Linked DNA regions of Homo sapiens. The protein of the gene in region 1 binds, or shares a complex with, the protein of each later gene. Each region holds a gene or a part of one and is shown in the gene's direction. Other genes may lie near its edges.

The links.
Region 2: B9D1 (region 1) and TMEM17 share a complex: the UniProt entries of both Homo sapiens proteins name them as parts of the tectonic-like complex.
Region 3: B9D1 (region 1) and TMEM231 share a complex: the UniProt entries of both Homo sapiens proteins name them as parts of the tectonic-like complex.
Region 4: B9D1 (region 1) and TMEM237 share a complex: the UniProt entries of both Homo sapiens proteins name them as parts of the tectonic-like complex.

Annotation. Positions count from the first base shown.
Region 1 is NC_000017.11:19,345,423-19,353,290, reverse strand, and holds part of B9D1 (B9 domain-containing protein 1), read left to right. Parts: intron 1-5,410; coding exon 5,411-5,507; intron 5,508-5,959; coding exon 5,960-6,022; intron 6,023-6,094; coding exon of another isoform or gene 6,095-6,152; exon of another isoform or gene 6,153-6,341; intron 6,342-7,868. UniProt on the Homo sapiens protein: Component of the tectonic-like complex, a complex localized at the transition zone of primary cilia and acting as a barrier that prevents diffusion of transmembrane proteins between the cilia and plasma membranes.
Region 2 is NC_000002.12:62,502,880-62,510,773, reverse strand, and holds the start of TMEM17 (transmembrane protein 17), read left to right. Parts: upstream 1-4,578; 5' UTR 4,579-4,644; coding exon 4,645-4,744; intron 4,745-7,894. UniProt on the Homo sapiens protein: Transmembrane component of the tectonic-like complex, a complex localized at the transition zone of primary cilia and acting as a barrier that prevents diffusion of transmembrane proteins between the cilia and plasma membranes.
Region 3 is NC_000016.10:75,539,065-75,546,932, reverse strand, and holds part of TMEM231 (transmembrane protein 231), read left to right. Parts: intron 1-855; exon of another isoform or gene 856-978; coding exon 979-1,107; intron 1,108-1,437; coding exon 1,438-1,581; intron 1,582-4,249; coding exon 4,250-4,331; intron 4,332-5,477; coding exon 5,478-5,583; intron 5,584-6,758; coding exon 6,759-6,939; 3' UTR 6,940-7,868. UniProt on the Homo sapiens protein: Transmembrane component of the tectonic-like complex, a complex localized at the transition zone of primary cilia and acting as a barrier that prevents diffusion of transmembrane proteins between the cilia and plasma membranes.
Region 4 is NC_000002.12:201,626,504-201,634,371, reverse strand, and holds part of TMEM237 (transmembrane protein 237), read left to right. Parts: intron 1-940; coding exon 941-1,061; intron 1,062-2,163; coding exon 2,164-2,321; intron 2,322-4,519; coding exon 4,520-4,643; intron 4,644-4,950; coding exon 4,951-5,142; intron 5,143-6,222; coding exon 6,223-6,296; intron 6,297-6,957; coding exon 6,958-7,051; intron 7,052-7,868. UniProt on the Homo sapiens protein: Component of the transition zone in primary cilia. Required for ciliogenesis.

The DNA of each region.
Region 1 (7,868 bases):
TCTCTTAAGAAATTAGTGGCTGGGTACGGTGGCTCATGCCTATAATCCCAGCATTTTGGGAGGCTGAGGCGGGTGGATCACGAGGTCAGGAGTTCAAGACCAGCCTGGCCAACATGGTGAAACCCCATCTCTACTAAAATACAAAAAATTAGCCAGGTGTGGTGGTGGGCTTCTGTAGCCCCAGCTACTCAGGAGGGTGAGGCAGGGGAATCGCTTGAACCCAGGAGGTGGAGATAGCAGTGAGCTGAGATCGCGTCACTACACTCCAGCCTGGCGACAGAGTGAGACTCCATCTCAAAAAAAAAAAAGAAGTAGTAAAAGAAGGCTGTGTGTGGTGGCTCACGCCTGTAATCCCAGCACTTTCGGAGGCCAAAACGGGTGGATCACCTGATGTCAGGAGTTCGAGACCAGCCTGGCCAACATGGTGAAACCCCATCTCTACTAAAAATATTAAAAATTAGCCAGGCATAGGCTGGGCGCAGTGGCTCATGCCTGTAATCCCAGTACTTTGGGAGGCCAAGGCGGGCGGATCCCCTGAGGTCGGGAGTTCGAGACCAGCCTGGCCAACATGGAGAAACCCTGTCTCTACTAAAAATACAAAATTAGCCAGGCATGGTGGCACGTACCTGTAATTCCAGCTACTCGGGAGGCTGAGGCAGGACAATCACTTGAACCCGGGAGGTGGAGGTTGCAGTGAGCCAAGATCATGCCATTGCACTCCAGCCTGGGCAACAAGAGCGAAACTCCGTCTCAAAAAAAAAAAAAAAAAAAAAAAATTAGCCAGGCCCGTGGCAGGTGCCTATAATCCCAGCTAATGGGGAGGCTGAGTGAGGCAGGAGAATCACTTGATCCTGGGGGGCAGAGGTTGCAGTCAGCTGAGATTGTGCCACTTCACTCCGGTCTGGGCGAAAGAGTGAAACTCAATCTCAAAAAAAAAAAGAAATTAGTAAAAGAATAGCAAGTTAAACCCAAAGAAAGCAGAATAGAATGAGAAACAGCAGAAATTAATTCATTAAACAGAAAGCACACTTACAACAGAAGAGATGAAAGAGGCAAAAGTTGGTTTTTAAAACTGAAAACCCCAAGTTAAGACGATGAAAAAACAGGCTAAGTGGGGTCACTCACACCTATAATCCCAACACTTTGGGAGGCTGAGGCGGTAGGATCGCTTGAGCCCAGGAGTTCAAGACTAACCTGGGCAACATGGTGAGACCCTGTCTCTACAAAAAATAGAAAAATTGGCCAGGCACAGTGGCTCAAACCTGTAGTCCCAGCTACTCGGGAGGCTGAGGTGGGAGGATTGTTTGAGCCTAGGAGTTTGGGGGTGTAGTGAGCTATGATCATGCTACTGCACTCCAGCCTGGGTGCCAGCGCTAGACCCTATCTCTAAAAAATAATAAGAAGAAACAGAAGACAGAAATGGCAGGAATGAAAAAGGAACATGTTACAGATCTTGCAGACAGTAAAAAGATAAGATATAAAGAACAGCCATTTGCTATACATTTGGCAAGGTAGATGAAATGGTCAGATTCCTAGAAAAAGATAACTACCAAAACTGCAAAAAAGGAATAAGAATCTGAGTAGTCCTATGTCTATTAAATTGAATCTATAATTAAAAATGTTCTCACAAAGAAAGTTCCAAGTCCGAGTGTCTTCATCACTGAGTTCCACCAGGCATTTAAAGAATGACACCTTCCATGGCAGAAGTGTAAGAAAAAAAAGAAGAGGAAGTAACGACAGATTTACACAAACTCCTAGAATTGAAAAGATTAAACATTCCCCAGCTTTTTTAGGTCAGCATAGTTTTGATTCTAAAGCCTGCTGAGGACATTAAAAAGAAGAAACTCCTTCATGAACAGAGTTGCAAAACTCCCAAACAAAATATTCAGAAACTGAATTCAAAACTCCTAAATGAAATATTCAGAAACTAGCAAGATAAAAAAAGGATAATATAATACATCATGAGAAGTAGGGTTTATTCCAAAAATACAAAGGTTTTATGACATCTATAGTTGGCCAGGCACAGTGGCTCATATGGAGGCCGAGGTGGGAAGATTGCTTGAGGCCAGGAGTTTGAGACTAACCTGGGCAACGTAGCAAGACCCTGTCTCTAAATAATTCACCACATTAAAAAGAAGAAAAGTCAGAGTCAGGCCAGGCACCATGGCTCACACCTGTAATCCCAGCACTTTGGGAGGCCGAGGCAGGCAGATCATTTGAGGTCAGGAATTTGAGACCAGCCTGGCCAACATGGTGAAACTCCTTCTCTACTAAAAATACAAAAATTAGCCGGGTTTGGTGGCGCACGCCTGTGATCCCAGCTACTTGGAAAGCTGAGGCAGGAGAATCGCTTGAAACTGGGAGGCAGAGGTTCCAGTGAGCCAAGATTGCACCACTGCACTCCAGCCTGAGTGACAGAGCAAGACTCCATCTCAAAAAAAAAAAGAAAAAAAAAATCATGATCATCCCCATAAATGAAGAAAACACATGGTAAAATTCAACTCCCATTCATGATAAAAGCTTAGTAAACTAGGAATAGAAGGAAGCTTCCCTAACCTGATCAAGATTATCTATGAAAAGCTTAGAGCAAACATCACTTTTACTGGTGAAATGTTGAAAGATTTTTTCTGCAACCTCGGCCTCCTGGATTCAAGCGATTCTGGTGCCTCAGCCTTCCAAGTAGCTGGGATTACAGGCATGCACCACCATGCCCGGCTAATTTTTGTTTTTGTTTTTGTTTTTATTTTTGAGATGGAGTCTTGCTCTGTCTCCCAGGCTGGAGTGCAGTGGCACGATCTCAGCTCACTGCAACCTCTGCCTCCTGGGTTCAAGCAATTCTGCCTCAGCCTCCGGAGTAGCTGGGACTACAGGCACATGCGACCACACCCAGCCAATTTTTGTATTTTTAGTAGAGATGGGGTTTCACCATGTTGGCCAGGCTGTTCTTGAACTCCCATCCTCAGATGATCCACCTGCCTCAGCCTCCCAAAGTGCTGGGATTACAGGTGTGAGCCACCGCGCCTCGCCTAATTTTTGGATTTTTCATAGAGAAGGGGTTTTGCCACGTTACCCAGGCTGGTCTTGAACTCCTGGCCTCAAGTGATCTGCCACCTCAGCCTCCCAAAGTGCTGGGATTACAGGCATGAGCCACTGCTCCCAGCCTGGTCTTTTTTTTTTTTGAGACAGAATTTCGCTCTGTCGCCCAGGCTGGAGTGCAGTGGCGTGATCTCAGCTCACTGCAAGCTCCGCCTCCCGGGTTCACGCCATTCTCCTGCCTCAGCCTCCTGAGTGGCTGGGACTACAGGCGCCCGCCAGCCTGGTCTTTTTAATAAATGGTGCTGGGACAATTTGATATACATAGGAAAAAACTTCAGCCTGTCCTCATACACACAAGTCAATTTCAGATGGATATGTAGCATAGAGGACTATAGCCATGATATCAGGGTAAGGGAAGATTTTCTGGCAGGACTCCATGAAGGAGAAGATCAATGAAGTTGACTATATTAAAATTAAGGGCTTATGTTCATTCAAAGACATCACTAAAAATGAAAAGATAAGTCACAGGATAAACACACATATACACACTATAAATCAATAAGAAAAAGGCCAGGCCAGGCAAGGTGACTCACACCTGTAATCCCTGCACTTCGGGAGGCTGAGGCAGGAAGATTGCTTGAGCCCAAGAGTTTGAGACTAGCCTGGGCAACATAGTGAGACCCCATCTCTACAAAAAATTTAAAAATTAGGCATGGCAGCACACGCCTATAGTCCCAGCTACTTGGGAGGCTGAGGTGGGAGGATCACTTCAGCCCAGGAGGTTGAGGTTGCAGTGAGCCATGATTGCACCACTGCACTCCAGCCTGGGCAACAGAGCAAGACCCTGTCTCAAAAAAAAAAAATGTTTTTAATGAAGAAAAAAGAAAAAGACCATCAAGTAGAAAACCGGGCAAGAGACTTGAGTAGGTTCTTCACAAAAGAGGACATCCAGGTGACCAAGAAACAGGTAAAGGTCTCAACCTTATTTCAGTAAGAAAAATCTAAAATGAAGGAAAATATAAGTTAAAGCTACAGTGAGCTACCACTATTCTCTCACTAGGACGGCTCAAATTTAAAAGATTGGTAATGCCATGTTTTCGTGAGGTACAGAGGAGCAGGAATCAGATACCACTGCTGGGGGAGTGCTGGCTGATAGGACCATGCTGGCAGCTTGGTGTTACCTTTTGGGAGGGAACATACATGGGCCCTGTGCAGTGTCATTCTTGGGTGTGTGCCCACCAGAGATGTGTGCACGCGAGTACCGAGAGCCTGCGCCATGGTGCTCAGCACTGGGTGCGTGGCCCCCAGAGGAAGGGCAGCCCATGTGTCCATCAGCACTAGAATGAACAGTCATTGTGACAGATTCCCACGCAGAATGTTATATGGTATTGAACATGAACACGCCCCTTTACAGGAAACCATTTGAGAAAATCTAATGGACATAATTTTGGATTAGAGTCTGGGCACAAAAATAAATGTACTGTATAATTCCTTTTGTATAAACTTTCAAAAACATTGGTAAAGGTAAAGTACCAGGTTTGGGATGCATTCTTTGGCAGTGAAGTCTTAAAGAAAAGTAAAGAGGTAGTTTCCTAAAATTCAGAATAATGGTTACCTTTGGTGGAAGGTAGTAATGGGAAGGGCACAAACCTCTCCCTAACATTTACTGAGCACTCACTATGCATTAGGTACTATTTCATGTGTTTTAGAGATGATGAAACAGGGGCAGAGAGGTTGGCTAACTTGCCTCAGTCGTGGCTGCAGGATCAGAGCCTGTCAGGCCGGCTCCTAGTCCCTCCCTGGGCCTCACCTGAAACTGGCGAGGTGAAAGTGCCTCATGCGCCTCAATGGCAACACGAAGCGGGTGTAAAAACAGCCACACCTATTATAGTACCTATAATATTTTAAAGGAAAATGCCCAGAAGGTTTTTCTTTTCTCTCTGACTTCTAGACACCCCCAAAATGAGCCCCTGCCACCTCAGTCCCATGAGCCCGCCTCCATCAGGAAGGGAGCACCCAGAGAGCAGAGGTCCTTAGTCGGCCCTGATCATAGCTGGGGCCCTGGGCCCAGATAAGGCCTCTGGAAGTGCCTCCTTGTACATGGAGTGACTGAGTGGGCACTGACTCCATAGCGGTGAGAAGGGGTGTGGAATGTGTGCCCAGGCCTCAGTGGAGACACAGGAAGTACCAGGGTGGGCAGAAGTCTTTGGCACAGTCTGGGTTCCCATGCCTGCTCCTGTCCCCTCTCAAGCCTGCCACCCCAGAGTTTTGAGCTCCATCCTTTGAGCACCCTCAGCTGGACACGCCCTGTTCTCTGCCCTGCACCTCCCCTGTGTGTCCTCATGTGCCCACCCCCTGCCTTGTCCTTCCCAAGGGCCACAGATCGTGCTCAGCGTGTATGGACCAGATGTGTTCGGGAACGATGTGGTTCGAGGCTATGGGGCCGTGCACGTGCCCTTCTCACCTGGCCGGTAGGTCCTCATTCTGACCTGGGCCCTGGGCAGGACTTGTCCTAGGACAGACTTCACCTCGTTTTCTGTCTTAGGTTCAGGCTGGGAATGCTCTGGGGTCTCCAGGGGCCTGGGCAGCTCAGCCTGGTGGCCAGGGGGGTTGTAGCCTGTATTTGGGAGGAGAACCTTTCAGATGGGTGGTGCCAGCCACACACCAGGTGGGTTGGGGAGGTAGTGGGACCCAGAAAAGAAAAGACCCTGAGGGACTCTGACCTCCATGAGGCTGTCTCCTGGCGCTCAGCACCTTGCCCAGACACAGGGGGTGCTCAGTTAGCACAGGTTGGATTCGTTGACATTGGCCCTGACTTGGCCCACGCTGCAGCTGCACTGGCCTGATCTGAGGGTTTCTTCTCCCTGGAGGCTCAGAAAGGTCTCTTACTCAGCATCTCTGTCTGCAAAAACATTTGTTTCAGGCACAAAAGGACCATCCCCATGTTTGTCCCAGAATCTACGTCTAAACTGCAGAAGTTTACAAGGTGAGTTTTGTACCCATAACCCCAGCCCCTCCTGATCTACTGGATGAATGGATGTCCCATTCTACCCCTCAGTTTGTGCCTGGTCGCCTCCTCAGATCTGCAAGCTGCTCCACCCACTGAGGACAAATAGAAACAGGTCCCCTGGGAGTGCTGAGTCACGGGGCTCCCTTCAGCCCTGTTCCAGCAGCAGAAGGCCGGGCGATTTTACCCTGTGCCCTGTGAAAAATCTTTGTGTCTGAGGGAGCAGAGGAAAAACTCTTGTCAGATGGGAAAAATGCTCATGACATAATGTGACATTAAAAGGTGGGAAACAAGAGGATATAGCAGTATGAGTCAGACACCTTGGAACAGTAATCATGATAAATGCCTTTACATGTGGGAGTCTCTGGCCGGAGCTGACATTTGCGCAGAGGCTTAGTGTGGAGGGAAGAGCCGGGGAAGAACATCAGGCACAGGGAACAGTGCCTGCCAGGCTGAGGAGAGCGTGAGCTTAGCATGCTAGAGAAGCCAGGACGGTGGTGTGGCCAGGACGGCAGTGTGGCCAGTAAGTGGTAAGCCAGGCAGAATGAGGGAGACATCAGGGAGGCAGGCAGGGGCCAGGACACAAGGGCCTGCAGGGAGGGCCCAGGGGATGCCTGGATGCAGCCCCAGCATGAAGGCCTCTTACCCCTGCTCACATCCAAGTGGGAGCTTAGAGGGCCAGCTGGGCCCTGGCCTTCTGACTCGAGGACCATTAGCGCAGTTGGGCAGCAAGCCTCTGCCGCCCACCGGCAGATTAGTGAGGCACAAGTGGAACATGGAGGACTCCCTGGGTTCCAGGGCAGCAGCCGGCAAGCAGCCCCTGCGAGCCTGGCCAGTACTGGGCGTGAGACCAGGCCAGAGCCCTGCTGGGTGGAGGGACAGCATCGCGCCCAGGGCCGAGAATGCTTCACTGAGCTCTGAGAGCCGTGGAGGGGAGGAAGGGCAGGGTCTCCGCTGGCCTCAGCCTGAGAATTTGTGTGCCTACTGCCCCTAGGAGTCCTTCTGGGAGGCCACCCTGTAGCAAAGGACTTCTTTCCCAGATGACCTGGGCCAGTATCACCTGGAGGTGACAATCCCCATGCCACAGGCTGTCAGGGAGGCAGCGAGGCAGTGCCCATCAGTGGGTTGGGAAAGCCTAAGAGACTGGGGACCCACACAGCCATCCAGGCTGGGTTATTCACCCTGTTCCACCGCCCACAGCTCCAAGGAGGACTTTGGGCCTCCAGGGGACAGCTCGCTGAGGAAAGGGTTTCACAGCCCCTGTGGAGGGGCTCGCAACTGGGCAAGGCAGTATGTGCTTGGATTACAAAAACTGGAGAAAGTTCTGATTAGTGAAGGCAGTTTGATTGGCAGAATCTTCCCAGATATGGAGGCTCCTTGCTCAGGCTGACACCTCGGTCATCCCCACCCCTCTCCCAGCCTCTCCCCACATCCTCCAGCGCTGGCCTAGGGCCTGCCCCAAACACTCTTGGCCACTGTATTCGTTTCCCACGGTGGCTGCTGCAACAAAACACACAAATGTGATAGCTGAAAACAGCAGAAATGTATGCTGAAGGCCAGAGTTCAAAATCCAGGTCACTGGGCCCAGAAAAGGCACCACAGGGCTGTGCTCCCTCCCAAGGCTCTAGGGGAGACTCTGTTTATTGCCCTTTCAGTTTCTGGTGGCCCCAGCCTTCCTTGGCTTGTGGCCTCATCACTCGAGTCCTGGCCTTTAGGGTCCACCTGGATAGTCGCCTCAAGATCCTTAGCCTAATCATATCTGTGCAAAGTGCACGTGACCCTGTTTCTCAATAAGGTCACGTGCACGGTTTCCCAGGACTAGGAT
Region 2 (7,894 bases), on another chromosome or scaffold:
AAGAAATACATTAAACAACTATTGCAGAAACAGCTATTACTCTGAACATCAACACTGGTATAAGAACTAAGCAGTTTAAACTTTATGGGACTATTCATTAACCTAAAATGATTCCCGTGATTTTAAGTACAGAGATTCCGTACTTCTTTTTTTTTTTCTTGAGACGGAGTCTCACTCTGTCGCCCAGGCTGGAGTACAGTGGCACGATCTCAGCTCACTGCAACCTCTGTCTCCCAGGTTCAAGCAATTCTCCTGCCTCAGCCTCCCGAGTAGCTGGGACTGCAGGGGCCCGCCACCACACCCAGCTAATTTTTGTATTTTTAGTATACACGGGGTTTCACCATATTGGGCAGGTTAGTTTCGGACTCCTGACCTTGTGATCAGCCCGCCTTGGCCTCCCAAAGTGTTGGGATTACAGGTGTGAGCCACCGTGCCTGGCCCATACTTCTTTCTTTAGATCCTAAGTAAGTAGTAGGTCTAGAAGATGGGAAACCCAAATCATACAATTCTTCATTTTTCATGAATGTGGATGCCCACCTGTATAGGCAATCACATTAGTGAAACACTGAAGGATCTCCTTTAGTATTTCTAATGTAATTGCCTATAAATATTGGGAGTATCAACTAATAAGATAACATTTGGAAAGTTTTTTTGAGCCCCTTGGACCATTTATGATACATCAATAATGGCAGGACTCATTCCAAACCACATTTTTTTTCCTCTCAAATTATCTTCTCTAATGTTTTTGCATCATCATTGCCTCTTCCTCTCAATTTATTTTTAACAAGATTTTTTTCTAACTAGAAAATGTACGCTCATATAGGAAATTTGAATAATAAAATTAGAAGGAAAAATACCCATAATTCTATCACTTTTTTTCCTCCAGGATTTTGATAACATAATTACAATCTGAAGAAGGTATCTTGCATCTTTTTTCAATGCCAGGGGAAAATATCTTTAAAATAATTCACTTAGGTTTTTGATAAGAATTCACATAGGTTTTTGGTTAACATAATGGAGTGCTTTAATGCTTAACTGCCTCCACTGTCTTTATTAGGAAAGCAACAGAGGTATTACCTAGCAGGTCCAGTTGAATTTACAAAATTAAATACCAGCATTATTTGACTCCACTCTAGGTGTTGTTTCTTCATAAACTTCATTTTAATTGATGTGTAAATGGTAGCTATCATGTATAGAGAGCCTTAATGATATAATATCACATCAACCACAACAGTAAGATATCATTATTTTTACTTTACAAAACGAGTATCTGAAATCAGTCACACAGCTGTTAAGTGGTACATCGAGAATTTTAGGGTATTTGAACCCTGCCCTCTCAGCTTCCAAGGACATTCTTTCTACTGCAGCCCAACACCTTGCCATAAATATCGTAATCTGCTTAATGAGGCCCTGTGGTTGGGCACTTCAAATGCCCATTCCCCTCTTTTCTAAACAATTATCAATAATGTTGGAGAAGCATTTGGTGTATAAAACTTTGTTTCTATGATTATTTTCCTTTAATAGAGCACGCCTTAAGATTTTATCGTGTTAAAGGAGGCAGGAACGTTTTAAAGGCTATTTCTATACATTGCCGATTACTTGTCTCAATGCGGTTGGCCAAATTATAATTCAACAGCTGAGCCTGAGGCCTCCTGCTTCACTGTTCCGTTTATAAAAAATCTCGGTTCATTTGATAAATGAAAAGTGATTCTCTGTTGCTAAGGTTTTTTAAATTGTTATGATTCACTATGTTTTAATACACCAATTCACCATTTTACAAAGTGAACCTTTTAAAGGGCTAGCTAAGTCCTTGAACTAGAAGGGGAAGACAAGAGAGTGGTCATTAGGCTTTTTCTTCCTTTTACTCACTCAACAGTCATCCAGCTCCTACTCATGGCCAGGTACCACACTGTGCTAGTGTTGGGGATATAAAGATGAAAGTCCATTCTTGACCTCTAAGAGCTTGAGGACTAGCAAGAGACACAGACACATAAACAGACAATTTTAGTATAGAGTGACCAGCACTGTGACCAAAGAAACAAGAGGAAGATGCTTTGGGAAACACAGAAGAGAGCACCTAAGCTATTTCAGGAAGGTCCTAGAAGCCTTTTTGGAGATTCTCAGGTCTGAACTCCATCTTGAAATGAAGCAGAAGTTAACCAGCTTTTCCCTGACATCCTCAACCCGAATTAATTGCTTCTTTAATAATTAAAAGACGTGGTCCTTTAATAGAGCACGTCTAATAACAGTGTTTGCACTTACTTGTTTCCATGTCTCTCTTTCACTGAGCTGTGCTTCTTGATGAGGAGGGACCATATCCCTAATTAGCCTAGCACGATATCCAAATAAGCAGTAGGAATGCAATAAACGTTTGTGTAATTATTTTAAAATTCTAGTCATGAACTTATTTCCACCCATATCTTCTTCTTGCATTTATATAAATGTGTAATTTTCCTTTTGATTGTAAAAATAATACTTTTACCACACACCCATCAGAAGGGCTAAAAGGAAAGGATAAGAAATAACAAGTGTTGGTGAAGTATATGGAGTAATGGAAATATTCACACATTGCTGGAGGCAGCAGAAATTGGTTTGATCACTTTGGAAAACTGTAGGCAGCCTCTACTAAAGCTGGGTCTTTCGTATCCTATGACACGGCAATTCCACTCTCGATATACACTCAACAAAAATGCATGCATATGTTCACCAAGAGGCATCTTTTCCCCAAAGCAGCACTATACACAACAGCTCCAAACTAGAAAATACAGACACTCATCAACAGTAGAATGAGTAAGCTTATTGTGGTATGATCACAAAGAGCAAGGCAAAAGAATCTACACTCAATGACATGAAGGAATTTCATGAAAGTAATGTTGAAGACAAAGCCAGTTTTTTAAAAAAGTACTTACAGTATGATTGCTTTTATATAAATATGCAAAACAGAAGCAAGATGACAAAGGGAGTGTCATCATCTAGAAAGTGGTGCGATAAGATGCACAGCTAGTGCTGCCCTGTGACTCTAACTCCTTCAAAAGTCCGCCTGTGGCAAACGCGGCTACCCTCCCAAGCCAAGATAAAGTATAATTGGAGTGCCGAGGCTAAAAAATATACCAGTGGGACTGGTCGAATGAGGCACTTAAAAATTGTGTACAGCAGGTTAAGGCATGGATTTTTTAAAGGAATGCCACCTAAACCCAAGAGGACAGCTGCTGCAGCATCCAGTTCATCTTAAGAATTTCAGGCCAGGTACGGTGGCTCACACCTGTAATCCCAGCACTTTGGGAGGCCAAGGCGGGTGGATCACTTGAGGTCAGGAGTTCGAGACCAGCCTGGCCAACATGGCGAAACCCTGTCTCTACTAAAAATACAATAATTAGCCGAGTGTGGTGGCGGGCACCTGTAATCCCAGCCACTCGGTAGGCTGAGGCAGGAGAATCACTTGAACCCAGGAGGCGGAGGTTGCAGTGAGCCGAGATTGTGCCATTGCACTCCAGCCTGGGTGACAGAGCAAGATTCTGTCTAAAAAAAAAAAAAAAAAAAAAAATTTTAGATTAGTCACACAATAAATGTTCTGATTTAAAAAAAAAAAGGCAAAACTCTCCTTTGCTGTTAGAATTCAGGAAAGGTCAGTTATGAGTGAGGAGTGGGTTTAGTGACTGAAAGGAAATAGGAAGGGGGAGTTTCTGGGAATATTGTAAAGTTTCTTGAACAGGGTGCTGATTACACATACAGATTTCAGTCTATGTATATATATTACACTTATTTCTTAAGTAATATATATTACTTACAAAAGGTGTACAATTTTTCTGTATGTGTATTACACTTAGTTTTTTTTAAGTAATATATCTTGAGAGAAAGCTAGAAAATAAGACGTTTAAAAATTTTTGAATCACCTACAATCCCACTATCCAGTGAAAACGACTGTTAACATTTTGGACTTTTTTCCAGTTCTTTTTTTCAAGCCAGTGTGCACACGCTCTCTCCTCCCCTCCACTCATACACATAAATTTTGCTAAATTAGGTTCATTCTCATTTAGTTTTATTTCTGCTGTATTTTTACATAAAGTTAAACTATACCATTCAATATCCTTTGCAAGCATTTTATAAGCAGCTGAAACATACTCCATTGAATGTATGTGCTCCAGTACATTTAATCAGTTGCCCATTGCTGTTTTCTTATTAAAAAATAATCAGTCACATGATGTCTCTCTCTCTCACACACACCCCTACACCTCTAGACATTCTTTAAGCTCTGCATTCGTTCTCTATTTCTCTCCAGAAAGGTTGTACCGATTTACAGTTCCACTGGCAAATGTGAGGGCTCCTTGTATCGCAGTCCAACCCCAGCTCATTTCTTAGTATAGGTTTGTTTTTAGGATGGTCGAGCTCAAAGCAGAACTAAGGGATCTGCCGTTTTGTACACGGCCGAGGCGCGCGGCTCCCTGGGCCTGGAACGCGCTCTGAGCGCGCCGGTCCCTTCCAGGTTGCGCGGGCTCCGGACGAGACCCAGCCCAGCCGGGCAGCCCCGCGCGCTCCCGGGTCCCGCCGGCCTCGCGCCGCCCGGTTGCCGTGGGAACCACGGAGCCTCGGAGCGCCCGCAGACTAGCCCGTGTCTGAGGGGGTGAGGGATACTGAGGCCCAGGCATGGAGCTGCCGGATCCGGTGCGCCAGCGGCTGGGAAACTTCAGCCGGGCCGTGTTCAGTGATTCCAATCGGACCGGTCCAGAGTCCAATGAGGGTCCGGGTGAGTGACCGAGGCCCGGTGCAGGGGGTGTGGCCTGCCGAGGGCTTGGCGTGGATTTTGGAGCGTCCAGAATTTGCCCGTACCTAAAATGGCGATGTCGCCTTCAGCCAGTTCTCCGCAGTGCGGGAGAGCGCCTTGGAGGAGGGGCCGGGCCGGACAGGGAGCTGAGGCGCTGGCGGCCTCCCGCCCCCGGCCGGGCCTGGTCTCCGCGTGGTGCTCCCTGGCCAGCTTGTTGCAAGCGCGGCAGCTGACGTGGGGCCGATCTCTGTGCCGCGCAAGGCCCATCATTGTCCCGGAGAAACCCCAAAAATAAAAAGATAAAAGCCGCCCTTGCTGCACAGGCTGGTCCCCCGCGCGCCGCGAGAGCGAAGGCCCAAGTTGTTTTGCCTCTGCGGCGCCCGCCCCGGCTTTTCTGTCCAGGATGACGAGGAATAGCCCAAGCAATCCCACCTCCCCCGTCCCCACCCCCACCCCAGGGAACAAATTTGCCTTTTCCCTTTTCCTAGCAGAACAAGTATGTTCCTAAGCAAGGCCATTTTCTCGTAGAAGACATTAAAAAAAAAAGTTAATGAGTCCTTTCAAACCACCATCCACTCCCACTGGCATGTGCCATACTAGCCGGGCGTTCAACAAAACTCACCCCTTCCCTGCCTTCTCCTCCTCCCCTATATGTAACTCTTATCATAAGGTAACAAAATACCATGATGCTTCTGCGTCCTTTAACTTGATGTCAAGTGATAACACAGTTTCCTCCAGAACAGTTTCCTCCTCCTACATCATGATGGTAGACAACACACTGTCAACCAAACCCATGTGGTTTTCATCATTCAACTCTGCTGGGAAATATCAATCTTTTCCTCTGCTTGGTTTTAGAGAATTTTTAAAAGGGACAGAGAAAAGTAAAGGCAGTTCCCAAAGCTGCATTTTGTCACCTTGATCACTTGCCTATTTCCCAAATGTAGGCCTTTATGATTTAGGATGTACAGAGAAAAATGTGAAAAAAATAGGTTTTCACGTTTCTGGTTCCAAGGATGAGGCTTAATGAGCACTAACGTCTGATAATACAAGGTAAAAAGACGTTTTCTGAAAAGGACCAGATAGTAAATATTTTAGACTTTGTAGGCCATATGGTCTCCACGGCAGCCATTGACAATAGTTATTGAATAGGCAGGGCTGTGTTCCAATAAAACTTTATGGACACTGAAATTTGTATTTCATATGGATTTCACGTGTGGAAAAAATATTACTTTTTTAACCATTTAAACGTGAAAAAACATTTTTAGCTCATTGACTGTACAAAAACAGGCAGCTGGCCAGTTGTTTACCTATCCCTGATTTATATTGTATGTTTTAATTTAAATTCCATTTACAGAACTCAACTTGAACTTTTGCAAAATTTAGTAAGTTTATGTCTTACGCTTTTAAGGTTCATTTACATATTAATTTGATTTTCATTTCCATGATTATAAGTTTGATCTGCTGAAATATGGACATAGCATAACCTTTAAGATGTTAACACACAATACTTCTAACATGAAAACCATTCTTTGCAAAATTTGACTACAGTTTCTTCTCAAAGGTACTGAAATGTTCAGCTTGCCCAATTTATTATTCTTTCCCAAATTTTCTTCTTTGTGGATTGGAAGTAGGTTTGATTATTTGTACTGTAATAACAAGTTTATGTCATTACCATGTCCGCAGCTTTGTACTGTTGCTATCGAAAAGATCCTAGGCTGGTGAGTTGTCTTCAGATTTAACAGATTTTAAGAATTCATTCCTTTATCAGTGGTAATTTAATAAACAGTTGCAAGCAAAAGTAGATCATAATAATCAGGCATATTCTTGGAGCTAAAAGAAACTATTTTGCTGTGAGAGACCATGACTATTTCTTATATTTTAAAATAATTAAGTGACAGATAAAAACACTCAGCTATGGAGAAAAGGAGAAAATAATGTTTTTAAGACATTTATTTTAGAGCCTTTAAAATCTTACGTGTACAGCAACTGATTTCAATATATGTGTCTGCTCTTAAGAATTTAGTCAAATTTAGGATGTATTTTGTAGGGCTCAATTTTAAAAATCAAATTCTTAATCTAGGACCCTGCTCTCTTACATAAAAGCAGAAAGTGTTATGGAATCAACCTTAGGTAAATGGAACTCATGTATCACAAATGGCTATGCTAGTAATGTCCTTATGACAGTATACTTTCATTAATTCATTCTTATGTGTATTTGATATTCACTGCGTGGAAAGCAAGATGCTAGATTCTATGAGGGTCTCAAATTAGGGTAGGACATGGTGTGTGCTTGCAATGAGCCTGTAGATAAGTAGAAGAGAAGAAGGAAAGAGGACTAATATTTGTTGAGTGCCTACTAAGTGTGCCAGGCACAGTGCTAGGATGAAATAATTTATATTGGCTCTAATTCTCACAAACAGCCTGTGAGGAAGTTTTAATTTCACTATTTTACAGATGAAGAAATAGAAGCTCAAAGAGTTTAAATAATTCATGTCAAGTCTGACATCCAGGGTCACAGAGGTTTGGGGAGCTCGGATTTGCTTGAACTCTGAAGCCCATGATCTGTTCAGTACACCAGACTGTTTTTTGGGGAGGGGAGTGTGGTTCTTTGCTAGCACTTCTTATTGACAGTTTAGAGTGGTAAGTACCTAAAGGGGAAAGGTATTTCTGCTGAGGTGGGGGAACTGATGAAGGAAGTATTGATGGAAAAGATGACACTGAATTGGACTTTAAAGAATGGCTAAGATTAGGGTATGCTGAAAAGAGAGATGTGTCTAATTATAACCTTGGTAATCCGTTTTTGTATAAGATTAGTTTATCTGTGGGAGATTCATTTTTATTTATTTTATGCATTAATTTTATATGCTATTTACATAGAATTCTACAAAAGAGGCAATGATAATTATCTGTTGAATAGGATTTATGTTGATATTCTACATTAAATCTATACCAGTAGTATATGCCAAAAAGTCAGAAGACTGTAATGGCAAAATGGTAAAATAATTGAAAAATATGAAACGTACCCCCAAATAGCCAATATTTGACCTAACTGGTATTAGGATGAATATTCCTTTTACTGTCAATGATTATAAATAGGCATAAAATTTGGTGTTTTACTGAGCCAATATTATA
Region 3 (7,868 bases), on another chromosome or scaffold:
TAATTTATCAAATAGATATGGTTTTAATACTTTGCTGATTTGACATAGCTTCCTTTTTCATTTCATTGATTGCTACTAAAAGATGCACAAGGCTTTCAGGTCCTCACACGAATGATGAGATAAGATCCAACATCAAGAATCTGAAGCAAAGACACTCGTGGTTTCAGAATCTATAAACAGAGTTTGGTAAGGCCGGGTGCGGTGGCTCACGCCTATAATCCTAGCACTTTGGGAGCCTGAGGTGGGCGGATCACCCGAGGTCAGGAGTTCAAGATCAGCCTGGCCAACATGGTGAGACCCAGTCTCTACTAAAAATAAAAAAATTAGCTGGGCATGGTGGTGGGCACTTGTAATCCCAGCTCCTCAGGAGGCTGAGGCAGGACAATTCCTTGACCCTGGGAGGCGGAGGTTGTAGTGAGCCGTGATTGCGTCACTGCACTCCAGCCTGGGCGATAGAGTTAGACCCCGGCTCAAAAAAAAACAAAAAAAAATAGAGCTTGGTGATTTTCTGTTGAGTTTGAGTTTGTTGGAGGAATGCATAATGATTAGGATTAGGTGTTTTTCTATTTTAACAAGTTGACTTCTAGAGACATAGAAGACTATTCTGACATGCTACTTAAAATTTCCATACAAATTCAGGCATATTTGTAAAAAAGAAAAAAATATCAGTGCAAAATAAGCAAGATCACATGAGACAACTGAAAGGCACAAATACTATCCAGATGTTTTTTGTTATTGCCCATTTATTTTGGCCAGTGAACATTTGAAAGGCCCAGATATGAAGTTCAGGGACCATGCACTTTGTGTCTCTCCCCAGTATTAATGCACTTACATCTATCTGCTTTTCTCTTTTAGTGGAGGAGATAATGCCTGTTGTGTACAGCAAGACAGTGGGTCATTGTGTATTTACAGAAGTGATGTGGATTCCTCCCAGACTCATTAGTGACCAGGGCTGCTGGGCCTGTTTGGGTTTCCTAGACTAGAGAAGAAGACAGGAACCAGGATGGGAAGACGGACATGTTACATTTTAAGCTGGAGCTTCCCCTGCAGTCCACGGAGCACGTTCTCGGTGTGCAGCTCATCCTGACTTTCTCCTATCGATTACACGTGAGTCAGTCCGCTGGGAGGCTGTCCTCTCCCTTGTGTCTTTTTAGTAGACCAGAGTCCTTCTTCTGATTTCTAGAAGACCCGCACTCTAGCGGGCCCTCTTCCCCATGTAGTTTGGGATTTAACTTAGGCCAATGGAATGGTTTTCACTAGTCATATTAACTGACATGGGCTATTAATAGCTCAGAAGGTTCTAGGCAGTGTTTCCTGCATGGCTACGCTAGGTATGTGAGGGCCTCTTAGGTTTCAGCCAAGACAGGTGACTCTTAGCACCCAGAGCCCTTCAGATCTGATGGCGGTTGGTATTGTTGGTCCTTCTAATGATTTCAGAGGATGGCGACCCTCGTGATGCAGAGCATGGCGTTTCTCCAGTCCTCCTTTCCTGTCCCGGGATCCCAGTTATACGTGAACGGAGACCTGAGGCTGCAGCAGAAGCAGCCGCTGAGCTGTGGTGGCCTAGATGCCCGATACAACGTAAGAGCGCTTCTCATTGTCCAGCTCCTTTGTTTCTCTGTGTTACTGTTCATTAAGTTCTTTAAAGAGGGGAATGAAAAGTAGAAATGTCAGGCCAGGCGCAGTGGCTCATACCTGTAATCCCAGCACTTTGGGAGGCGGAGATGTGCGGATGGATCACTTGAGGTCCGGAGTTTGAAACCAGTCTGGCCAACCTGGTGAAACCCTGTCTCTACTAAAAATACAAAAAATTAGCCAGGCGTGTGGTGCGTGCCTGTAATCCTAGCTACTTGGGAGACTGAGGCAGGAGAATTGCTTGAACCCAGGAGGTGGAGGTTACAGTGAGCTGAGATCTCGCCACTGCACTCCAGCCTGGGCAACAGAGCAAGACTCTGTCTCAAAAAAAAAAAAAAAAAAAAAAAAGAAAAAGAAAAGAAAAGTAGAAATATCATTTCTTTGTGGGTGGCACCAAAGAGGGTCTCTGTAGAATTCTTGCCATGAATTTTTTCAAACTACAGAGAAGGTACACGCATAGTTACACCTAGAAGGGAAGAGAAACAAAATCTGTGTTTGTCGAAGAACTAAATTGCTTATTGCTTTTAGGTCCACGTGGGTGCACACACACACATTGTGTCTTCCATACACACGCTTGGTCACACGCAGGATGTACTCCGAAGGACACTGTAAAATGATGATGTAAAATGTTCATGTAAAGTATTTCAGAAATATTACTAGCCATAGTTTACTGAACTCATAACATATGCCACCCCTGAGTGCAGGCGTTTACCTATATCATCTCCTTTAATCATCATGGCAACCTCTGAGCTGCCTGCATTGTCCTTTCCCCGCACTCCAGCCACTTGTCCCATCACTGCCCCCGCTTGCTCCCTTCCAGCCCCCCTGGCCTTTTTGCTGTTCCTCAAACCCAAGAAGCAGCTGCCACCTCAGGGCTTTTGCTTTTGCCATTTCCTCTGCCAGGCATCCATGTGGCTTATCGGACCATGCCATTCAGGTCCCTGTTCAGATATCCCCAAGCCCAGTCCTTCTCTGACCTGCTTCTACAGTAGCAGCCCCTCCTTCCACCATTCCTCAGCCAGACTCTCCCTCCTGCCGCCTGGCCTACTCAGGATATGTGTTTGTGTGTTTATTTGCTGTCTCCCTCAGCCTTGACAGCAGTGGCATCTCAAATACTATCACATCCGTGCCTAGCACACTGCCTGGCAGATGGTAAGCTCACAGAGATACTTGTTTAAATAATGAACTCATTTTGCAGAAGACGTAACTGGGGCTTAAAGTGATTAATTTTCCCAAAGGCTCAAATCTTGAAAGATAACAGAGCCTGTCTGTGTGCAGAACTCATGCATCTAATCACTCATTCCTCACTTTTATTTTATCACAATGGGGACCATAGAAGTTGAGCTGAGGTACTTCTGAAAATGAAAAAGGGATGTTATCGGTTATTACAGCCATAAACCCAGACTTGTAGATATATAGTGGGTTTTACTGTTGCTCTGACTATAATCAATATAAGTTGTAAAGAATAGGAAGCTGCAACATATGAAATGAATATGGCACTTTTTGTTTGAATGTCTATATATCAGATTACATTAACAGCAAGCAATTATTTCCTCCTTTAAGGGATTATATGCTTATGGTTTGCATTTTATCTATATCTCTATATTTAAAAGTGATAAAGAACTTAGCACCCAGAAAAGACCAAGAAAATGACAAAGGAGTTGGAAGTATGGTTTCTTTTTTTTGTCTTTGTGTAGGGGTTTTTATTTGTATTTTATTTTTATTTTTGAGACAGAGTCTTGCTCTGTCACCCAGGCTACAGTGGAGTGGCATGATCTCGGCTCACTGCAACCTCTGTCTCCCAGGCTTAAGAGATCCTCTGATTTCAGCCTCCTGAATAGCTGGGATTACAGCCATATGCCACCACGCCTGGCTAATTTTTGTTTTCTTTGTAGTAGAGATGGGGTTTCACCATGTTGGCCAGACTGGTCTCGAACTCCTGGTCTCAAGTGATCCATCTGCCTGGGCTTCCCAAAGTGTTGGGATTAGAGGCGTGAGCTTCCATGCCTGGCTTTTTATTTTTTTTTATTTTTATTTTTTTTTGAGAGATGAAGTCTTTCTCTGTTTCCTAAACTGGAGTGTAGTGAGTGGCATGATCATCATTGACTACGGCCTTGAACTCATGGCCTCAAGTGGTCCTCCTGCCTCAGCCTCCCAAGTCACTGGGATTGTAGGCATGAGCCACCACACCTGGCGAAAATACGGTCTGTTAAAATAATTTAAGGAATTCTTTCTCCCGCTGAGATAAAGAGGGGTATTTTAAAAATAGCTTTAAAACCTGTAAAACATGGACACTGACCCCTTATTTCCATCCACAGAAAGAAAGACTGAGAGTAAATGGGCTTAAATTGTTGCAAGAGAGTTTATTCATCTTTGAAGAGAAGATTATTGATACTGCAGTAGGCCACCAAGAACAAGAGGGTGCTCTGTGGGACCAGCCTGGGTGGGCAGCAGCCTGTTTTATTCATCTTTGAAGAAAAGATTATTGATACTGCAGTAGGCCACCAAGAACAAGAGGGTGCTCTGTGGGACCAGCCTGGGTGGGCAGAAGGGTAGAAGGAAAAGGGGAGGAGTCTCCCAGGTGCTCACACCACATCCTCCTCCCGTGTCCCAGATATCCGTGATCAACGGGACCAGCCCCTTTGCCTATGACTACGACCTCACCCATATTGTTGCTGCCTACCAGGAGAGGAACGGTGAGTCACAGGTAGAGCCCATTCAGCCGCTGCTCAGGACTTTCAAGGTTAGTGGGGGCAACAGAGACAAGCAGAACTGGAACCCTTGTGATGAAAATGTCAAAACCCGTGAATGCTCAACGATGGGAGCAAATATGCTGTCCAGGATTTGTCTTTTTCGTCCTGATCTTCAGACCTGGGACCGCCCCCACCCCTCCAGCATCCCATGGTCCAGCAGGCTAGTGATGGTTAAATGCCATCATTATCCCACCACTGGCTTAGTGGGTTTCTCTTTTAAAAAATATAAGCCTAATTGAGTTGTTCCCCATACCACACCTATCCACACCTATAACAGATGCCAAAGACAAATTGCTGTTCATGCTTTTCAGAGAAAAACAGAGAACGTGGGTGACTCTCCCCACATTAGCAGTCCAGCAGGAGAACAGGAGTGCCCCTGTTTCCTGCCAGAAGGCACAGTGTGCTTATTCCTTACAGAGCTCTAGGCCATGGCATGTGTGGACTCGGCACGTTTGTCTGGTCGGTGGCTGAGGTTTTCTCTAAAAGCATCTACAGTGTTACTTGGCAAGCAGACATCATGGAGACTATACACAGACGTCTCACAAGGGGGATGACTGCAAATCCAGTATTGCTTACTGATTTTATGGCATATACTAGTGGCATTATTGCAATAATAGAGGGAATTTTAAAACAAAAGTAGAAAACATTGCCCTACAAATCAACTATTTTTTCATTCCTTTCATTCTTTAGCCTTCTGCAGATCTTTTTATACAGCCATTGTAGTGTAGAAACACATTGGGATCCAAGTTACTTTTATTTATTTAAACTTGGAATATAAATACTTCCCCACACAGCTACAAAGCTGTGATACTACTTTTAGTGGCAGTATAGTATTCCTTCAGTTAGCCATTCAGCACATGTAGAAGAAACTCTTTCCAAGTTTTTTATGTATTTTAACAAAAGTATTTTGACTATTATTTTAACAAATAATGTGTGATCAGCTTTGCACATGCAATTTCTCTTTCCTTCCGAATGATTTCTTTCAGTTCTGAAGCACAGGATAATTTCCAGGTATCAAATAATCTTTATAGCCTTCAACTGCCAGAGTCAAACAGCCATCGTGGTTAATGGTTAATGATTGCATTGCAGTTACCACCGTCCTGAATGATCCCAACCCCATCTGGCTGGTGGGCAGGGCCGCAGATGCTCCATTTGTGATTAATGCTATCATCCGATACCCTGTGGAAGTCATTTCATATCCTTTCTGTTAAAGAGTCCATGTTAAGGCTGGATGTGGTGGCTCCTGCCTATAATTTCAGCACTTTGGGAGGCCAAGGTGGGAGGATCATTTGAACCCAGGAGTTCACAACCAGCCTGGCCAAGATAGTGAGTCCCTGTCTCTACCAAAAAAAAAAAAAAAAAAATTAGCCAGGCATAGTGGCGTACATGTGTAGTCCCAGTTACTTGGGATGCCGAGGCAGGAGGATTGCTTGAGTCCAGGAATTCAAGCTTGCAGTGAGCGATGATTGTGCCACTGTACTCCAGCCTCGGTGACAGAGTGAGACCCTGCCTCTTAAAGCAAACAACAATTTAAAAAAAATCAATGGTAGCTCAGTTTTCAAAGAGGAATGATTCCTTAGTTGTCTCAAGTAGTAACAGACGTGGGAGGTTTTCTCTTGGAAATCATGACAGGGTTATAGCCTCATAAAAATGGCTGCGTCTTTGACATCTTAGGCTACATGTCTCAGAAAATGACTGTATGTCTGCTATTCATATAGGAACAAATAATTCATGTCTTGGTCCTATTTGTTTCCAAGCAATTCTTCTAGGTAAGAATCATCCATATTTATGTCTTAATAATCATATGATATCCCTTTTATGCTAAGGTTATGTGAAACATTCTTGCCAGTCCCTGTCTGACCTAAACTTTGGTTTAATTTTGACTTAGGTCGACTAATGGAAAATGAAACCAACACCAACACTGCAGAGAAGCAAACAAAAGAGAAGGCATTTTAACTGGGGTCTTAGGAATTACAATTCCAGAGACACAAACCTAGGAAGCAGCTAAATTGTGTTCCGTACAGGTGCAATTAGGCAGGGGCTAAGGGTGTTCCAAGTTTACACAACTGGAAGATTTTAGAAGATGGATGGATGGCTGGTTAACAGCTCAGGATATCTCTAGTCCATGATCAATCTAGTTTGGCATAGTTGTCTGTTTAGGAGGTTGGTCATCAGGCTTGGTATATAAATAGCTCAAATCAAATGTGGCTGGTTTTACCATTTGGCCAAGTTCAGGTCAGCTTCCATCTGGGTGTGTACATGACAGAGGTCCTGCCTCCTTTCGAGATACCTCTGCCACAGCCAATTCCATCTTGGATTTTCTCTTCATACTTAACACCATGTGGCCCTTCACTCCTTAACTGTCCATACTTATCAGCCAGGATTCTGGGAGATGGTAAAGTTCGCCTGGGTGCAGTATGTCAGCATCCTGCTTATCTTCCTCTGGGTGTTTGAAAGAATCAAGATCTTCGTGTTTCAGAATCAGGTGGTGACCACCATTCCTGTGACAGTGACGCCCCGGGGAGACTTGTGTAAGGAGCACTTATCCTAGAAAGGCCATTTCTGAAGACTCAGCAGGACCGTGGCTGCCTCATTGTCATCTTCTGGGAACATCTTAGGACCTTTTGAAAGAGCCCAGCGGACACCTGCGGGCTTGTGTGCTTTTCCCTCAGAGACAACGGTTCTTTCCGGTTTTGCTCTACACAGTTCCGTATCTTCAGAGCTCCTGCAGAATTGTCAGGGACTAGTTTGTGGAAAGGTCTGAGAGTTCCTGGAGGCTATAATTAGCTTTTTGGGTTTTCCTTCTTTGCCTTAGCGTTGAATTTCAGGAGAAAATTGCAGTCAGTTCAGACATCTTGGAAAGAGTCCCATCTCTGGTCAAGCAGAGACTTTTCCTCTGTTGAACTGAGGAACACACTGTGCATTTCTACCTTCTGTTGTGAGCCACTCTTACTCTTTTCAGGGCTCTCTTGTGACAAACATGCCAATCACTAGCACTTTGCACCCCTGGGCTTCTCCATTTCCCATTCACAGCTTTGATTTCCAGAGCTGAGGCCTTTAACTGGAGACCTGGAGGGGCAGGGCCCAAGGGCAAGGGCCGCATTAGCACAGGCAATCAGGGAGGGCCGCTGAAGGACACTTGGACCGTCCACCTGCCCCAGCCCAACAGTCAGTCATCTGTCATCAGCTCAGCTGAGCAGCCCTGGATCTTTGCCGTACTGTGACTGGGCTCTTTGCCCTATTTTTCCCTCTGTCTGTGCCCCTGGATGGCAGGCTGAAGTCAGAGGGGCTGTTTCATTCTCAGCCCCCTCAGCAGCACTGGGGGAAGAAAGCATTGTCACAACAGGTTCTTTCTGGCCCTCACCCAACAGCCTGGGCACTTGGCCCTCCTCCTCCTTGACAGCCCTCCCCCTTCCTGCAAAGGACAGGGGCGACAGGGGTTGGTGTTGGGATTGGCTCCCGCTGCCTGACAACCACAAG
Region 4 (7,868 bases), on another chromosome or scaffold:
TGCATTATATTTCCAGTCGAGGCTGTAAGTATTTTATTACAATAGAATTGTAAGGTCTTGAAGGTATTCCAGGGAGCTAGTATTTCCAGGTAGGAAGAGTAGCTAGTGGATTAGAAGAAGGCTTCACTGACTCATTTAAACTTAATACCTACCCTGTGTGCAGAAAAGAGTTAATATAGCAGACCTGAGACTGCTATCCTTGGAAAAGCCTGCTGATAAGATTGGCCGTTAGCTGGCATCTGGGAACTTGGATGATAAACAGCTCCCTACACTGATAGAAAACTTTCCCTAAATTATAAGGTGACTCACGGTGCATTTGTGCACACATAGTGATTTTTGCTGAACATCTGTTTCCCTTCCGGGCATCCAGAATTTTGGTATGTGCTAGGCTTATGTGACTAGCCCCTAACCTTGGGCACTGTCTCTGATGAGCTTCTTTTGTACAACATGTGTCACATGTGTTGTCACAACTCATTACTCTCCAGTAATGTTAGTACATCCTATTTGACTCCACTGATAGAGGACTCTTGGAAGCTTGTACTTGGTTTCCTCTGGACTTGGTCCATGTACTTTTTCCTTTTGCTGATTTTGCTTTATATCCATTTGCTGTAGTAAACCATAATTGTGAGTGTGATGATTTCCAAGTCCTGTGAGCCCTTCTAGAAAGTCAGCGAACCAGGAGATAATCTTGGGAATCTTCAGCACAGCCTGGGTATTGGGTTACTTAATTTTTTTCCATATTGTTTGGCATTACAATTTCAATTTTTACATTGAGAGTTTAGAAGTATAACATTTTTAAAAAATTAAAAATTTGTAAGATAGTGAAAACATTTTTGCCCAATTAAAATTCTTGAAGTTCTTTTCTCTTATACAAGTCTTGTACATTACTTTTCTTTTTATGTTTTAGTTATTTGAAAAGTTAAATTTATTTTGTTTTCAGAATTGGAGACTTCCTCCACCCAAAAGAAGTCATCTAGTTCATCTTTATTACGAAATGAAAATGGTATTGATGCGGAGCCAGCTGAGGAGGCAGTTATTCAAAAACCTCGGAGGAAGACAAAGTAGGAATTTATTTATTCTTCTAACTATTCTCCAGGATTACCCTGATGCTTTGTTTGGAGCTCCGAAGCAGTAGCTTCTCATTAAGTCTTATTACATACTTGTATTTGTGTACCTCTAGGATAAGTATTATTACAAAAAATCAGTTAAACCAATCGAATGATAAATTTCAGAAGAGTAAACCACTGAGAAAATAAAAAAAATTAAGATTGTACTTAAATAAAAAAACTTAAGAGCCATCTCTAAAAAAGAAGAACACAAATAGAATATATAAGTAGCAAAATTAAACATTAAGGATATTTAAAAATTAAAGATAATGAAATAGGCTATTGTGATTTATTTTCTTATGTTAACAGAATTCAAATTATGATTATTTTAGGAATAAGTAAAACTGGGTTTTAGCATTAAGATAAAATGAGTAGTGTACTTTAAAGAAATAACACTGGAAGTCATATATATAGCACTATTATTTGTATTTGAAAATGAACCTACAAATAGTGATCAATGTCTGTGTTAGTCCGTTCTCACACTACTAATAAAGACATACCCGAGACTGGATAATTTATAAAGGAAAGAGGTTTAATTGACTCACAGTTCAGCATGACTTGGGGGTGCCTCAGGAAACTTACTATCATGGTGGAAGGTGAAGCAAACACACCCTTCTTCACAGGGCAGCAGGAAGGAGAAGAATTAGAGCTGAGTGAAGGGGGAAGCCCCTTACAAAACGATCAGATCTCCTGAGAACTCACTATCACCAGAACAGTCCCTTGACAGGTGGGGATTATTACAATTCAAGATGAGATTTTGGGTGGGGACATAGCCAAACCTTATCAGTATCTATACAGAATCATACAGTTTTAAATTTGGAAAGAAGCTTACAGATCTAGTTCAGTCACTTCAATTTTCAAATGAGAAAACTGAAGCCCTCAGAAATGTAAGTAACTTGCTGCACATAATAGTTAATAACCGATTTATTTGAGTAAAAACCACATTTCTTAACTCCAAGTCCAGGGCCCTTTCCATTATATTTATAGCTAGTTCCTTATGTAAGTCTGTAAAAAATTCAATAATCATCTATTTTTCATACATACGTCCTTATTACAGGAAAACCCAGCCAGCAGAATTACAGTATGCCAATGAGCTAGGAGTAGAAGATGAAGACATAATCACTGATGAGCAAACTACTGTGGAACAGCAGTCTGTATTCACTGCACCCACTGGCATTAGCCAGCCTGTAGGCAAAGTATTTGTGGAAAAAAGCCGTAAGTAGATGCCTTGTTTTAGAATATGAACTCTTTAAAAATTGTCCAAGGATATCCTTTATACTTCTGGAAATCTGAATTAAGGAATTAAGCAAAACTGTGTACAACAATTTATACACAAAACTGGTCATCATGCTATGATTCATGAGAGTGAAAAACTGGAAACAACCTAAATGTGAAATAGGAGAGGAATAATGTCAGTAAGTTGTGGTGTATCTATATAATAATGTTCTTCACCATTAAACATAATGTTTAGGGAGAATTTTTCATTTTATGGAAAGATTCTGATAAAAAATGAGCATATACACATGTGCACACACACACACACAGTTTGATCTATGCATAGGACAAAAGACTTGAAGGAAATAGGCTCAAATATTAATGCTGGTTGTTTCTGGATTTATGGGGTTATGGGCAATGTAAAGATCTTCCCCACCCCTGCCTGATTCTTTATTCTTTCTTGTACTTTACCAGTTTGCTGCAATTGGTAGTAGTTGTGGTGGGACAGATAATAATATAAATTCTACAATTGACAATAAGAGAAAATACATGATGATACTACCATATTAAATAAGAAATACAACATTATAGCTGTATATTCTTTTGCAAGATAGTTGTGACATTGTATAATGTATACTAGGTTTGCAGTGTATTTTAGCTCAGGCTGCTATAACAAAATACCACCGACTAAGTGGCTTAAACCACGGACATTTATTTCTCATAGTTCCTAAAGCTAGGAAGTGCAAGACAAGGTTCCAGCAGATTAGGTTACTGGAGAAGGCCCCTTCCTGGCTTGCCGACAGCTGCCACTGTGTCGTCATGTGGCAGAGAGAGCTCTGGTGTGTCTTCTTCTTCTTAAAAGGATTATAATCTCATCATGGGAGCTTTATCCTCATGACTTCATCGAAATCTAATTACCTCCCAGTGACCTCGCACTCACTGGGGGGTTAGGGCTTCAACATATGAATTTTTGGGGGACGCATTCCGTCTATAACACAGTGTTTAAGAAAAACCTACTCAAAGCATGATCATGACTATATACTACCATGGATATGTTAAGCATATGCTGCCTAAAGAACTCATCTGAAACATAAAGGTTAGTCCTTAAAATTTACAATTTAGATTTTGTGTACCTTGTTTTAGAACCCTACTTCAGAAGATCCCATTTAAGGGATCTTGCAGTTCTTGGCCAATAAGAAACCTGTGGTCTAGAGAGGCTGACTTACCCAGTGTCTCACAGTTTGGTTAGGGTGGAACTGGGACTTGAACTGTGGTTTTATGACTTCTAGTCACATGGTTTTATTCATCTACCACGTGGTCATTTAAATTACCGCAGTTCTTTTTCAAGCAGTATCACTTAATCCTCATTTTTATTCTTGCTTCACTTAGCATAGAAATTTCCCTGCTAGAGTAACTGGCCATAAAAGGTACCAGTGGTTCTATTGTCTGCCCAGAAGTTGTCTTTTCTTAGGGAAAATTGTCACACCCCTGTCTTTCATCCTCCAAAACACCTGCGAACTGGGTTTGGTGAGGATAATTGAAATGGAACCTTTCCTGTTTCCTGAGGTCTATTTGTGGATTACTAGATATACAAGAAGGAGCCTCTGAATCAACAGTAAAAAGGCTAAAGCCCTGCTCATACAATATTGCAGTGCTGACTTTTGAACTGATGTTCTTCACAGGAATGTTCTAAAGAGAAATTTATGAAGCAGCCTATTTCTTTCCTGTCATCCCAGAAAGCCATGCTACACATCCTGACATCTTTTCCTAAGAAATTTAAAGTAGTTTTCAAATATTGACTTACCTTGATAGTATAGGCATATAAACTTTAATACTTCTAAAGTCTCTAAATTAGAATTTTGTAGACTAGGTCATGTTAAAGATTTCTAGACTTTATTCTGAGTTGAAAGTTCATTTTTTTTTATTAAATATAATTGATTTCTGAAATTGTTACTTCACTTTGGATTGAGAAGAAAATACACTGACATCGCTTATTTTTCTTCAAGATGAAAAATTATGTTTAAGGAACCCCAAGAAAAGATCCTTCTGAAATAGGTACTGAGTCAAGGAGAATTTTCAGATAGAACAGCAATATTTCAGTCTTAGTTTGCGGCTTCCTGAGTATGGAATTTAAAAAAAAAAATGGCTACCAGGGTTCTCTCTCGCTAGTTGTTAGTAATTACGTTATGTGTTCTTAGGGAGATTCCAGGCTGCTGATCGTTCAGAGTTGATAAAGACCACAGAAAACATAGATGTGTCAATGGACGTGAAGCCTTCCTGGACCACCAGAGATGTGGCACTTACAGTGCACCGGGCTTTCAGGTGGCTGCTTTTGTTGGACTTTTCTTAAAATAAATGTTAACTGAGTTCTGTAATTAAAGAAAAAAATAACCTCTTGGTTGTTCAGTATTATTAATGAAATCACAACTTAAAATGGTAGGTAGGTATATTTTTTAAACATCCTATTGGAATTGAGTGATCTACCTATCAGTGTAACTAAAAAGAAAGAGCTTGCTTTTACTTGTCATGAAATGTTGAATTTTATTCTTGTATATGAAGAGATTTTAAACATGTTTTAGCTTTTTACTTTAGTAATTCATGTATAATAATCAAACCCTTTTCCATTCAGGATGATTGGTCTCTTTTCTCATGGATTCTTGGCTGGCTGTGCTGTGTGGAATATTGTTGTGATATATGTTCTAGCAGGAGATCAGCTATCCAACCTCTCAAACCTTCTGCAACAATACAAGACCCTAGCGTATCCATTCCAGAGTCTTCTGTACTTGCTTTTGGCTCTGAGTACAATTTCAGCTTTTGACAGGTAATGCCTATGACTCCAGATCTGTCTAACTTCTTCAGGAGGAAATGCTGAGCAAAATGTGTCACTGACCATGATAGTTTTCAAAATAGAATTATAGAGTATCAATGTTACTTCAAAAAGTTTTAAGGCCAGTCTACTTCTGTTCTTTTTTGAGGGGATGAGACCATTGTAAACAAAATATTCCCAAAAGACTTCACCCATTCCAGCATCAATTCATAAGTCCAAAATTTCATCCAAATATAGTCAACTCAGAAGTTCCTAAATGTCATCTAAATCAGGTATAGGTGAAACTCAGAGCATTTGTATTTGTCTCCTAGCACTGCTGTAACAAAGTACCACACACTGGCTGGCTGAAAACAGCACATTTATTCTCTTATGGGTCTGGAGGCGAGCAGTCTGCAATCAGGATGTGGCCAGGGTTGATTCCTTTTTCCAGGGCTCTGAGGGAGAGTCTGTTTCATGACCTTCCCCTCACTTCAGTGGTTGCTGACAGTCCTTGGCATTCCTTGGCTGTAGATGCATCATTCCAATATTTGCCTCTATCGTCATGCAGCACTTTCCCCCTGTGTATCTCTGTATCTGTGTCTATTCTAATAAGGACAGCAGTCATACTGGATTAGGGTTCATCCTAATGACCTTATCTTATCTTTATTACATCTGCAAAGACCCTGCTTCCAAATAAGGTCACATTCATAAGTACTCCAGGTTAGGAGTTCAACATATCTTTTTGGGAACACAATTTAGCCCCTTTTAAAAAAAATCCACCGAGTTAGAGCCCAATGATATGGGTAATAGAAAGAGGTAGAAACTAATGAAATTTTATAGATCAAGTTTAATTTTCTTTAGGATGTTTTAACCCCAAAGGAATGTTGTCCAAAGTAGTCTAGTTAGATGTTTTATGTGGCCTTTGTAAATTAGATAATTTTGTCATGCGTGTTAAGTATACACTGTAGCTACTTAAAACCTAGTAATAGTATATGTGCTAGCATTAGACTAGAGAAGGAAAAAACTATAGTCAAGAAAGTAAAGTTTTGTTAAGTTTACAACTGCGCTGTGACAAGAAACTTTTATATTTTCTAGGATTGACTTTGCTAAAATATCAGTAGCAATCCGAAATTTTTTGGCCCTGGATCCTACAGCTTTAGCATCTTTCTGTGAGTAAGCAGTTTAACATGATAACTGTGTAATACTTCAGTTATACCATAATTTTGAACCAGGATAAATATAATTTTTTTTAAAAGTTGTATTACTGCTCCTTATAAACATTACCTATAGATGTTCAGTGAATTTGTAATTAGAAACATAAAAGGCATAATATTGATAGAATTATTTTTTCAATTGAGGTTCATCTAAATAACTTTGAAAAGCTTAATTTATTGTACTATATTACTTACTTTTTAACTTTTGTATTTTCTACTTGACATTAAACAGATTCAGCGGGTATGGCCTTTTAATAACAAACAATATTTTATATCTTTCTGATCATTTGGAATGCATTTTGTTCTAAGTTTTGAGAATATTAATAAAACTAGTTTTAGGACCTTGAGCAAGTCATTTAACTTTTAAAAAGATGTTCTAGGTTCTTGTCAGTTCTAATGATGAAATAGTGAACGTCTCAAAAGATCCTTCTGCACCTATTGTTCTCAAAAATTTATATAAGGATGTCTGGCCTATTGAAATATATTTATTTGGTCAAATAAATTTCTTTTATATCATCAGTCATGAAAGTATAGATTATTTTCGATATTAATCTATAAATTCAAAATAAACCAGGTTGTTAAAAATTATTAGTAATTTCATTTGTCTTTTTCTCAGTGTACTTTACTGCTCTTATACTATCTCTGAGTCAGCAAATGACAAGTGACAGAATCCACCTTTACACACCTTCTTCTGTTAATGGTAGCCTCTGGTAAGAATTCACAATGACATTAGCAATTGTTAATGGCAATAACAGCAACTTTTCTTATCCTTCCATTCTTTTTCAACTGCAAATAATGAAGGCTCTGTTTTTGTTTCCAAATATATGGCAAGAAAATACTTATTCCTTTGGTTAATGGGTAACTATTGTTATGTCCACCTGCATTTTTAATGAAATATCTTCCTTTTAAAAATCTGTTTTAGATCTTCAAGTTATAGTTTTTTTTTTTTTCGAGATAGAGTCTCGCTGTGTCACCCATGCTGGAGTGCAATGGCACTATCTCGGCTCACTGCAGCCACCGCCTCCTGGGTTCAAGCGATTCTGCAGTCTTAGCCTCCTGAGTAGCTGGGATTACAGGCACCCGCCATCATGCCTGGCTAATTTTTGTATTTTTGTAGAAATGGGCTTCACCATGTTGGCCAGGCTGGTCTTGAACTTCTGACCTCAGGTGATCCACCCGCCTTGGCCTCCCATATTGTTGGGATTATAGGCATGAGCCACTGCGCCCAGCCAAGTTATAGTTCTAAAATAAGTCATCATATGATGGACGGAAGGAGCCCTGCATTCTTACCCCCTGTCAGGGAGTTTCATATCCCAGAACAGTGATGGGAGTGAGTAGCTGGGATAGATTCAGAAAACCAAGCAATGCTAGAAAGAGCGGAACAGGGAGAGCCAACATCTGCAGATCAGCGGCCAGCCATGAAGCTGACAGGATGGCTGAGATTATAGTTCATAAAACTTAGAGAAGCAGTCTTTTTTTTTTTTTTTTTTTTTTTTCCCCAAATGCTGCACGTAGCATCCAAAAGTA